2 separate regions of the Homo sapiens genome follow, and region 1 is linked to region 2. Evidence: fine-mapped expression QTL. Tissue or cell type: gastroesophageal junction. Region 2 holds a variant in brackets; the other region holds the start of a gene. All regions are shown on one strand. Distances are between the middles of the regions.

The links. PIP is the estimated chance that this variant, and not a neighbour inherited with it, causes the effect.
Region 1: BTBD16 starts here. The variant in region 2 is fine-mapped to the expression of BTBD16 in gastroesophageal junction (GTEx, PIP 0.99). The same link has a PIP of 0.9 or more in skeletal muscle.

What each region holds. Positions count from the first base shown.
Region 1 is chr10:122,269,175-122,274,301 of GRCh38, forward strand. It overlaps BTBD16 (BTB domain containing 16), which reads left to right and starts at 2,122. Exons shown (of 16, transcript NM_144587.5): 1 at 2,122-2,340.
Region 2 is chr10:122,341,752-122,346,961 of GRCh38, forward strand. It overlaps the pseudogene RNU6-728P. Among named protein-coding and RNA genes, the nearest start is that of PLEKHA1, 30 kb to the right of the region's middle. The variant G/A (reference allele first, on the strand shown) is at 2,610.

The DNA.
Region 1 (5,127 bases), 73 kb before region 2:
TGCCTGTAAATGCATTGCGTTTGTAAAAGGAAAATAAATTAACAACAAGTGTTTGTTTTTCAAGCATGAGAGAGGGCCCACACCTGGCTCAGGAATGCAGCCTCGGCCTCTGGCTCCTGAGGCCCCTGCAACAGTTGTTAGAGGCCTGCTTCCGGTCTCATGCTGCCCCTGAGCGTCTAGGGATGGTGGGCAGACCCTGAACTGGGTTCCTAACCCCCCTGTCTAAGACATGCCAGTGTCTTCAGCCCCTTGTCGCCTACATTCTTCTCCCACTGGTTCTCTCATTGTGCACGTCCCTCCCTACCTCCTGATCTCCAGAAGAGCTAGGCTGAGAGGTGAGCACCAGTGGACTCCTTTGGGCCCCACCTCAAATCCTGTCTGCAGCACCAGCTGCTGCTGCTGCTACTAAACACCAAAAGCCTGACAATCAGCTGCTTCTCCAACCCGGTGGCAGTTGCTGGGATCAGTTGTATACTACCATGAAACCCTGTCGTCTCACTCTCAAACCCAAAATCCAAGGCACAACCAAGAGACATCGCTCTAAGCTGAAGTGCACCTCTGGAAGCTACTAGAACAGCCAAAGATGCTCTTAACACACGTGCATACATGGATGCAATTGCAAATGAGGACATAGGTGGGTACAAACACCAGGGCCATGTTCGTACTCAAACACAGAAGCAGACACACACACCTATGCATACATAATCACATGTGCACACTTATGCATGTGGCACTCAAGCAGGTACACAGGCAGAGTGGTGGTTATGGACTAGGACATCCAATTACCCAATTCCAGAGATGTTTATTGAGCACTTTCTAAAGTCCAAGTTTGGTTGCTGGGCTCTGGGGATGCAGAGATGGGTAAGCCACTCACAGAACATTCCACAGCGATCGGCTTCTGTGCAAAGCAGAATATGGTGTTGGGAGGAGTAGAATCACAGGATTTGAGGGCTGAGGCGGGAGACAAATTCAGGGGTACCTCCCATTTATAGAGTGTTTCGTAGTTTCTAGATCACAGCCACAGGAGGCAGCGCAGCTACTTTCCCGTTTTACTTTAGGATGTATGTGGCCTAGGAGAGGCTGGCCTTGGGTCTTAAAAGCTGTACTGCCTCCTGGTTCCTATTACTGTAACTAGGGATTTCTGTGATCCCTGGGGTGGTGGTCCAGGCCTTTGATGGACCCGTGGTGACCCATGTGACTCTGACCCACATGGCCTCCACCTCCCCATCCCCTAGTTTGGGTCATGGGCTTCACAGGCCACGTCGCTGAGGACACTGTAAGATTGCACTTAGGGCCAGGTGCGGTGGCTCACACCTGTAATCTCAGCACTTTGGGAGGCCGAGGTGGGCAGATCACCTGAGGTCAGGAGTTCGAGACCAGCCTGGCTAATATGGTGAAACCCTGTCTCTACTAAAAATACAAAAATTAGGCCGGTGTGGTGGCGGGCACCTGTGATCCCAGCTATTCAGGAGGCTGAGGCACAAGAATTGCTTGAACCCGGTGAACCTAGGAGGCGGAGGTTGCAGTGAGTCAAGATCACACCACTGCACTCCAGCCTGGGCGATAGAGTGAGACTCCATCTCAGAGAAAAAAAAAAAGCAAAACAAAACAAACAAATCCCAAACATTTCCACTCTGGATGCCAGCTTGAAGGCTCTTGGTCTTGTCCTTGACTTTTAGGCAGTCCTTAGCTCCCAGAGAGAGCAGCATTAAAAATCATCATCAGCAAAGTACTTCATTAGGCATAGCTTTTAATAATGCGGAATGCTCAATTTTTATTGAAATATGTTTGTCAAAACACAGATAGAAAATGCTAGAAATAGAGCACCCCAGAATGCCAGAGCTGGGAGGCATCTGAGAAGCTTCTAGTCTAATCTTCTCCTTTGACAGATGAAGCCTGAAGATTTGGGGGTTGGTTCTCACTGAGGCTGTGCCCTGGGTTGCCCCAGGTGCTGTGAGGAACAGGAATGGAGGCACATGGCACCCACACTGGTCTCTGAGATGCCATCACTCACAGCTTCTCCCCATCAGCCAGGGCCTTGGACACAGCCCGAGCCTGAGTTGAAACCTGGCCCTGGAACAGGAAGTGCTTGGAAGCTTCCCTGCCGTTGCCGTGGTGCTCACAACCACCCAGGAAACCAAGGCAAGCTCCCCCTGTCAAAGCACCTTGGCCCATAAGAAGAAAAGGGGGAGCCCCAGATGTGATGAGCGCTTCCAGGCTTCAGGCTCAGAAGGCGCCCCCAGCTCTCCTGTAACTCAGAGGCCAGTGTGATGGGAGTTCCTCCACTCAGCACACTTCCCCTGTAAACACGCCTGTGGTGGGCAAAAGGGCTTTGGAACGGTAAGTACAATGGGTATTTTTCAGCCACTTCAGAGACCAAGAAATGTGTCCTAGTGACAGGTGCTGTCTTAGCACCTGTCTAGACCCAGTGTTAGACTTGGGTGCCTCTGGTCTACTTGGCAGGGAGGGAGTTTAGGGAATCAGGAGGGGTCTGGGAGCTGAGAGACCATTGTAGGTAGCTCCTGCCCGCCCACAGGGACCTTGGCACAGGCTCTCAAAACACACGAAGGGGCAGATTGCCTGGTGGGATGAAAAAAGAACACATTTCCAGGCCATTGAGATGTCTCTGGATTTCAAGATCAGCTAAAAAAGTTCTTAGATATTGATCTAAGAAAGCAGGAGCTTTGGGTAGCTGAGTGCAAACCCCAGCCTCCCTCTCTCTGTAACTGAAGCGGTGCTCTGTGGGCATAGCGAGTCCCGTGTGGGGTTTATTCTGTGCTGACCAGGTCTGCTTTAGAATGGAACCCTCTTCTCTCTTCTCAGATTCCTTAAGGCCACGTTGAGGATTTGGGGGTCTATGTCTAGGGCAGTGGGAAGCTGGTGAAGGGCTTTAAGCTGAGGAGTTCATCATCCTGGCTCCTGTGAGGTAAAGGGATCAGAAAAGCATGTATGTGTTACCTGAGGTGGGAGAAGCCTCACGCAAGGTGGAAACTCAGCCATCAAGGAAAACACACATTGCTGTAAACTCAAGTGCACCTCTGAAAGCTGGTTGAACAGCCAAAGATGCTCTTAACACACATGCATACATGGATGCAATTGCAGATGAAGACACCAGCAGCTGGGTACAAACACCAGGGCCATGTTTGTACCCAGACACGTTTCTTTTTCTTTTTTCTTTCCCCTCGAGACAGAGTTTCGCTCTTGTTTCCCAGGCTGGAGTGCAATGGTGAGAGTTTGGCTCACTGCAACCTCCACCTCCAGAGTTCAAGTGACTGTCCTGCCTCAGCCTCCCAAGTAGCTGGGATTACAGGCATGCGCCACCACACCCAGCTAATTTTGTATTTTTAGTAGAGACAAGGTTTCATCATATTGGTTAGGCTGGTCTTGAACTCCTGACCTCAGGTGATCCACCTGCCTTGGCCTCCCAAAGTGCTGGGATTACAGGCATGAGCCACTGGGCCTGGCCCCAGATATGTTTTCAAATTAGAGACTGGCAAAGGAAATACACACACACACACACACACACACACACAGGACATATTTTCATACTAATGAAACAATTTGTTTACCATAAACAAAGTCAAAAGACAAATGATACACTTCTGCAGCATGTATGGCAGACAAAATGTTAGTGTCCCCAGTACATAGAGGGCTCCTTAAAAAATGCTAGTGAGACTACAGTAACCCAGTAGAAAATTGCGGAAAACCTATGATTAGGCAGTTTTCAGAAAAGAAAAATTAAACAGCCAATAAATAGATAAAAGAATGCTCAACCCCACTGGTAGCCAGGAAAGTTCAAATTAAAGTAAGAATCTGAAACCATCTGACACTCACCAGCTTGGCAAAAATAAATACGATGATACTACCTAGTACTAAAGATGTTGTGAAAAAAATGACAACACTTATAAATTGGTGATAGGAATGTTAATTGCTGCAATTTTGGGGCAAGTGAATTGGTATTAACTATTTCAATTGAAGATACAGATCTCTGACATAACTATACCACTTGGAAGACTATTTCATAGAAATAAAAACAGCAACACAAAGATATATATATATATATATATATATACACACATACATACATATATATACAGATGCAGATATAGGTAACATGTATAGATATATGTATACACACATGTACACAAACTGCCATAATAATGTGTATGCATATTGTTCCCATTGTTTTTATTATGGGAATAAAATATAGGAAATAACCTCAATGACTTGGCAGAGGAATATTTTAATAAATAATGATGCATTCACTGTATGAAATATTATGCGGCCAGAAACAGTGTCTCATGCCCATAATCCTGGCACTTTGGGAGGCCAAGGCAGGAGGATTGCTTGATATCAGGAGTTCAAGACCAGTCTGGGCAATATAGATCAGTCTGGGCAACCCTGGCTCTAGAAAAATTAAAAAATTAGCCAGGTGTGGTAGCGGACACCTGTAGTCCCAGCTACTGGGGAGGCTGAAGTGGGAGGATCACTTGAGCCCAGAAGATTGAGGCTGCAGTGAGCCTTTATCACACCACTGCACTCCAGCCTGGGCAACAGAGCAAGACCCTGTCTCAAAAAAAGAAAAAGTGATATTATGCAGCTATGTTAAATTTTTCTTTCCTGTCATTGTATTGGTTCACTAGTTACAACAAGCATATATTATTAATACTTTTGCAATTAAAAAGTCCAATTAAGGCAATTAAAAGGCAAAGAAAAACCTGTCTGCCCAAGTGGAATGGAAATTCTATGAGGCAAGGATCGTGTGCATTTTGCTCACTGCTGTCTCTCAGAAACGGCTAACGCCTCTCTCCATATGGCGACTGCACAGGAGATGCTTGTTGGTGAATGGATGAACATAGCCATGGCTGTGATGCAGGTGAAGTGCTGTTTGGGGAGCAAAGGGAGGTCAGCTGAGGTTCTTGGTCATCAAGTGCCGTGGCTTCTGCTGGTTTCACCAGCTCACCCACTTCTCCTCTTCTCTGATGTTGCTCTGGGGAACTACCCAGTCCCCAGTGCACGTTCTTGTTGGGAGAATTAGTCAAGGTGTCTGCCCTCAGGGGCCAAAGAGTGGGCCCCTGAGCTAAGCCAGGCCAGTTGGGGCCTCTTGCTGAGAATCTGGATTGAAAA
Region 2 (5,210 bases):
TGTCTGATAAGAAGGAAGCTGAGGCCGGGCATGGTGGCTCACACCTGTAATCTCAGTACTTTGGGAGGCCAAGGTGGGTGGATCACCTGAGGTTAAGAGTTCAAGACCAGCCTGGCCAACATGGTGAAACCCTGTCTCTACTAAAAATACAAAAATTAGCTGGGTTTGGTGATGCATGTCTGTGATCCCGGCTACTTGGGAGGCTGAGGTGGGAGGATTGCTTGAACCAGGAAGGTGGAGGTTGCAGTGACCTGAGATTGCACCACTGCACTCCAGTCTGGGCCCAGAGAAAGTAAATTTATTCATCCAAGTCTCCTCAGTGTGGCAGAGTTGGGAGTCCAGCTCAGGCCTGGCCACAGGCCTATCTGTTTCTATTTCCCCTGATGGCCCACTGAGAAGAGTGGAAATGTTTTAGGGTGTTTCATTCAAGTATTTCTTGAACACCTATCTGTTCAAAAGCAATGCGCACGGAGCATATGCTACGCGCCTGGCTGCGGTGTGCAGGGTGTGCCTCATATGATATCTCATTCGATTATGATGGGGACTTGAGCAGGGGCAAGGGTGGGAGAGTGGCACGTACCTGGGCCTGGAAGGATGGGGGGCTGTCCTTGTAGGTGGGGATGGAGGGAAACGGTACACAGGTGGTGTTCCAGCCTCATGGCTCTAGGACTGAATATGCATCTGAATTACCTGGGACTTTGTGCTTGCGCAGATCCTGGGCCCCGGCTGAGAGAGGCTGATTTTGAAGTCTGAGAGACACTCAGAAATCTGCACTATAACAGGCTTCCTGGGGGATGCTGATGCAGGGTGTCTGTGGATCACATCCAGAAACTGATCTGTGTGTCAATTCCACAGCAGGGTTTCTTACTGTGCTCCATACACCCAATTGTCTTCCTTACCCAGTGCCAAAACAAAATCCAAACAATAACAAAAAACCTGTGAATTGATTTCACCACACTGGCTGATTCGAAACAAAGCAAAACTGATTTCCTAGAATATGAAATAAACAGAACTTAGTAATGAGGCCCCTCCTGTGGGTGAGCCATAATTCACAGTCCACCCCTTTCCACTAGGGGGCATGGTCCACCTCAAAAATTTTAGTGGCAAAAATTTGCAACCTAAAAACTCGTTTTACAGCAGGGAGTCCCCTTGCTTTGTGGTTGAAAGTGGAGCTGTTCGTCCTGGGAGAGGCTCTGTTTATCCAAACATCCACAGTATGCACATCATAAAATCTCTGAACTTGAGAAGTGTTAGTCTTGAGACAAAAAAATCTTAAAATAATTTTACAAGCTTTTCTTACAAGGGAGAAATTCGTAGAGATTCAAGGGAGAACTTGAATTTTAAAGCCCAAAGTCCCAATGCCCAAAGCAGTGGCCATGAGCACTGGTTAACGAAACCTCTTATGTGCCATGTCTGAAACGCCTCGTTCACTTCTCCTGATGCCCTTCTGGCTCACCTCCTAGCCGCTCACCTCCTATCCCCTCCCCTCCAACGGGGGAGATGGCCCTGGACTCATTTGGTGCACACCAAGTCTTTCGGGTTCTAGAGTACAACTGACCTGGGTTTGAGTCTCAGCGCTGCCCCTTATCAGCTGTATGGCCTTAGGCAAGCCATCTAACCTCTCTGAGCCTCAGAGACTGATCTGAGATAGGCAATCAAACTCATGGTAAAAATTAAATAAGTTGATGTTTTTTGTAAAGCACCTACCACATAATACGTGCTTTATACAATTTATTCCTTATTTTTTCACCCTTATTGCTTGGAGTCAGGGAGTACTTGTTGAAGGTCAAAATGGTTGCTGTGCGATCTTGGGACAGTCCCTTTTCTTTCTCTGGGCCTATTTCCCTTTATGCAAAATGAAAAGGTTGACCCAGGTGCTCTCTGCAGTCTTTCCAGCTGCAATCATCAGATTCTCAAATTCTGTGAATACGAAAGAACAGATGTGAGTTGTTGAGCCTGTGAACCAGAAGGAGGAGGATCTGGGGAAAGGAACTGTCTTATTTTCCCGTGGGCTCATCAGAATGGGAATGAATTGGAAAGAGTAGGAGAAGGTTTTTCCTCGCCCCTCTTTATAGGGTTTTGCATCCGGGAGACTGGAGCATCTTGTAATACCGGGGAGGAGAGAGTTTGTTCTTGCTCTTGTAAGCCTAGGCTACTGTTTGGGGTTCGCCATGCTGTTGGGGAGAAGAGTGAGCTTCCCAGGGATGACCTGGGTACCAGAAGTCCCAGGCCCTGCTTGCACACGGGGGTAGGTGTAGGATATGGGGAATTGGGCCTCTGGGCCCTGAGGCCTTGAGAGCTGGCGGGTATAGAAGGAGGTTCTCCTGGAGGAGAGAGAGACAGAAGAAACCTCTGTGAGACAGACCCTGAGGGCAGCACCAGCCAACTGAACTTTCCGCAATGATGGGAATGTCCCACATCTGCTCCATCCGATGTGGTATCTGATGTGGTATCCGATGTGGTATCCGATGTAGCCGTTAGTCATGCGTGGCCTTTGAGCACTTCAAATGGGGTTGGAGCTAACTGAGAAACTGAGTTTTCAATTTTATTTCATTTTAATTAATTTAAATTTAAATTGCCATAAGCTTAAGTAGAAGAAGCAAGGTAAC[G/A]ACAGCACCCAACATGAAACCAGAACTGGATGCTTCCTGGCTTTGCAGACTCTCTAGGGTTCCGAGCCTCTCAGTCTCTTCCCAGGCCCCCGATGAGTGGAGCCTCAGTGGCAGGCTGTGCCCATGCCTGTGGCTCAGCCTGAGGCCACCTCAGACTTCTTTCTGGAGAAAGTCGTGCTGTGGAACAGGAAGGTTCCCATGCTGGGGAAGCGGAGTTCAGCTCTGTATTGATATTATTCTTATCTTGCTCCTTCTACTTGCGCTAACCACTTAAATTTAAATAAATGAAAATGAAATAAAATTTAAAATTTCACTCTTTGTCACTCTAGCCATGTTTCTTTCTTCCTTTTTTTTTTTTTAACTCCTCCTTGCAGAGGAGCACTAACTCACAGGCGGTGTGCCCAGAGTCGGCCAAGCCGCGTTTCAAGTGCTCCGTGGACTCAATGGCTAGTGGCTGCCCTGTGGGCTTGGCAGATGTGGGACAAAGGGCTCCTATGGCTGCTCCTCATGACTTTGAGCTCTGTGACTTTGAATGAGTCATGTGACCTTTGTGCTTTCATTCCTTGACTTTACTCACACCACAGATTTACAGTGAGCTGCTGCAGGCCAGGCTTCGGGTGAGGTTGTGAAGGTGAACAAAACACACAGTCTCCGCCATCTCAGAGCCTACAGTGTGTGGGGAAAGACAGTTATTAGTGGAATATGCACTAAAGAATGCCTGTGTGCCCTGAAGAGCACAGTTGCCTGGAGCACTGTTTCCAGAGAGCATAAAGCAAAGAAAGCTGACCTAGATCCTGGTGTGGGGATCAAGGCCCAAGGAGAGCCCTCCCAGGGGAAGCAACGCTTACACAGAGAGCTGAAGTCGGAGTGGGAATTGAAACAGGTTTAGGTGAGGATGTAGAGAAACGACTACTCATATGCTGCTAGTGGGAGGGTGAAATGGTGCAGCTGCTTTGGAAAACTGGTGGCTCCTCAAACAATTAACGTACAGTACCATGTGACCCAGCAATTCTCACCTCTAGTTACATACCCCAGAGAAAATGAAAATATATGCCCTCCCAGAAACGTGAACACGAATGTTCGTAGCAGTATTATTCACAACAGGCAAAACATGGAAATTAGCCAGGAGCGATGGCGTGCACCTGCAAAAGGGGTGAGGCGCCTGTAGAAAGGGGGTTGGCTCATGCCTGTAGTCCCAGCTGCTTGGGAGGCTGAGGTGGGAGGATCACTTGAGCCCAGGAAGTGGAGTCTGCAGTGACCCATGATCACACTACTGGACTCCAGCCTGGGTGACAGAATGAGACCGTCCTTTACAAAAAATAAAATAAAATGCTCACTTTGGTAGCAGATATACTAAAATTGGAATGATACAGAGATTAGCATCACCCCTGCAAAAAGATGACATACAAATTTGTGAAATGTTCCATGTTTTTAATAAATTTTTTAAATTAAAAAAAAAGTAAAAGAAAAAGAAAAAAAGAGAAATGGAAACAACCTAAATGTCCATCAGTGGATGCATGGATAAACAAAGTGTGGTCTATCCATGCAATAGAACATTACTCAGCCCTAAAAAGGAATGTAGGACTGGCACGTGCTACATGGATAAACCTTAAAAAGATCATGCTAAGTGAAAGAAGGCAGTCACAGAAAAACACGTATTATATAACTCCATTCATACGAAATGTCCAGAGGAGGAATGTCTACAGACAGAAAGTAGATTCGTGGTTGCTTAGGGCTGGAAGATAAGAGGATGGCCACTAAAGGGCACAGGGTTTCCATTTCAGGTGATGAAAATGTTTTAAAATTGAACAATGGTGATGGCTGGACAACTCTGTGAATATGCTGGAAACCACTAAACTGTACACTTAAGTGGGCGAATTGTATGATACATTAATTCTATCTCAATAAAACTGGGGCTTTTTTGAAAAAAAAAAAAAAGGAGGAATTGGGGGCTCAGGAGAAGATTCAAGCCCAGACAACATGTGAAAGTGAGCCTGGTACCTTTAAAAAACACGGGAGAAGGCCCCAGTGGGCAGAGCCAGCAGAGCCAGCAGCAGAGGCTGGAGATGTGGGCAGCTGGGACATCCCTGGATTTTGGTCTCTTTCTCAAGACCACCTAGTATTCAAGAGTTTCAGGCCTGGGGCCACCCTGATGAAACCTGGGTTTTGAAAAAGTTTTTCTAGATGCTGTTTGTCAGCAGAGGTGAGGGGGGCTTGGGAAAGAATGCCAGGTGTCAACATGGTGTGGGATGTGTTGTGGGTGAGCAATGACTATCTGGACCAGTGATGCAGGGGTAAAAGAATTTACCAAGACAGTTGTAGATAATGAAAGGCAAATTTACTAGAGAAAGTATGAAACTATGTAGTGAGAAGGCAATGGGCAGGCCAGCAGAAGAGGAGCTGACTGCAAGGAAACAAAGGCTGGCTGGAGATTTTATAGAATAATGCTTATGCTATATGCCGAAGAGGGCTTTGTGCAATACTAATAATGCAAGGTTGCAGTGAGCCAACTTGCAGGTGTCTGGTGATAAGCTGGGTGCACGAGGGGTACCTGTTCTGGGCCATGAAGAAAGGCAGATTTGCGGCTTACCTGCCTCTTCT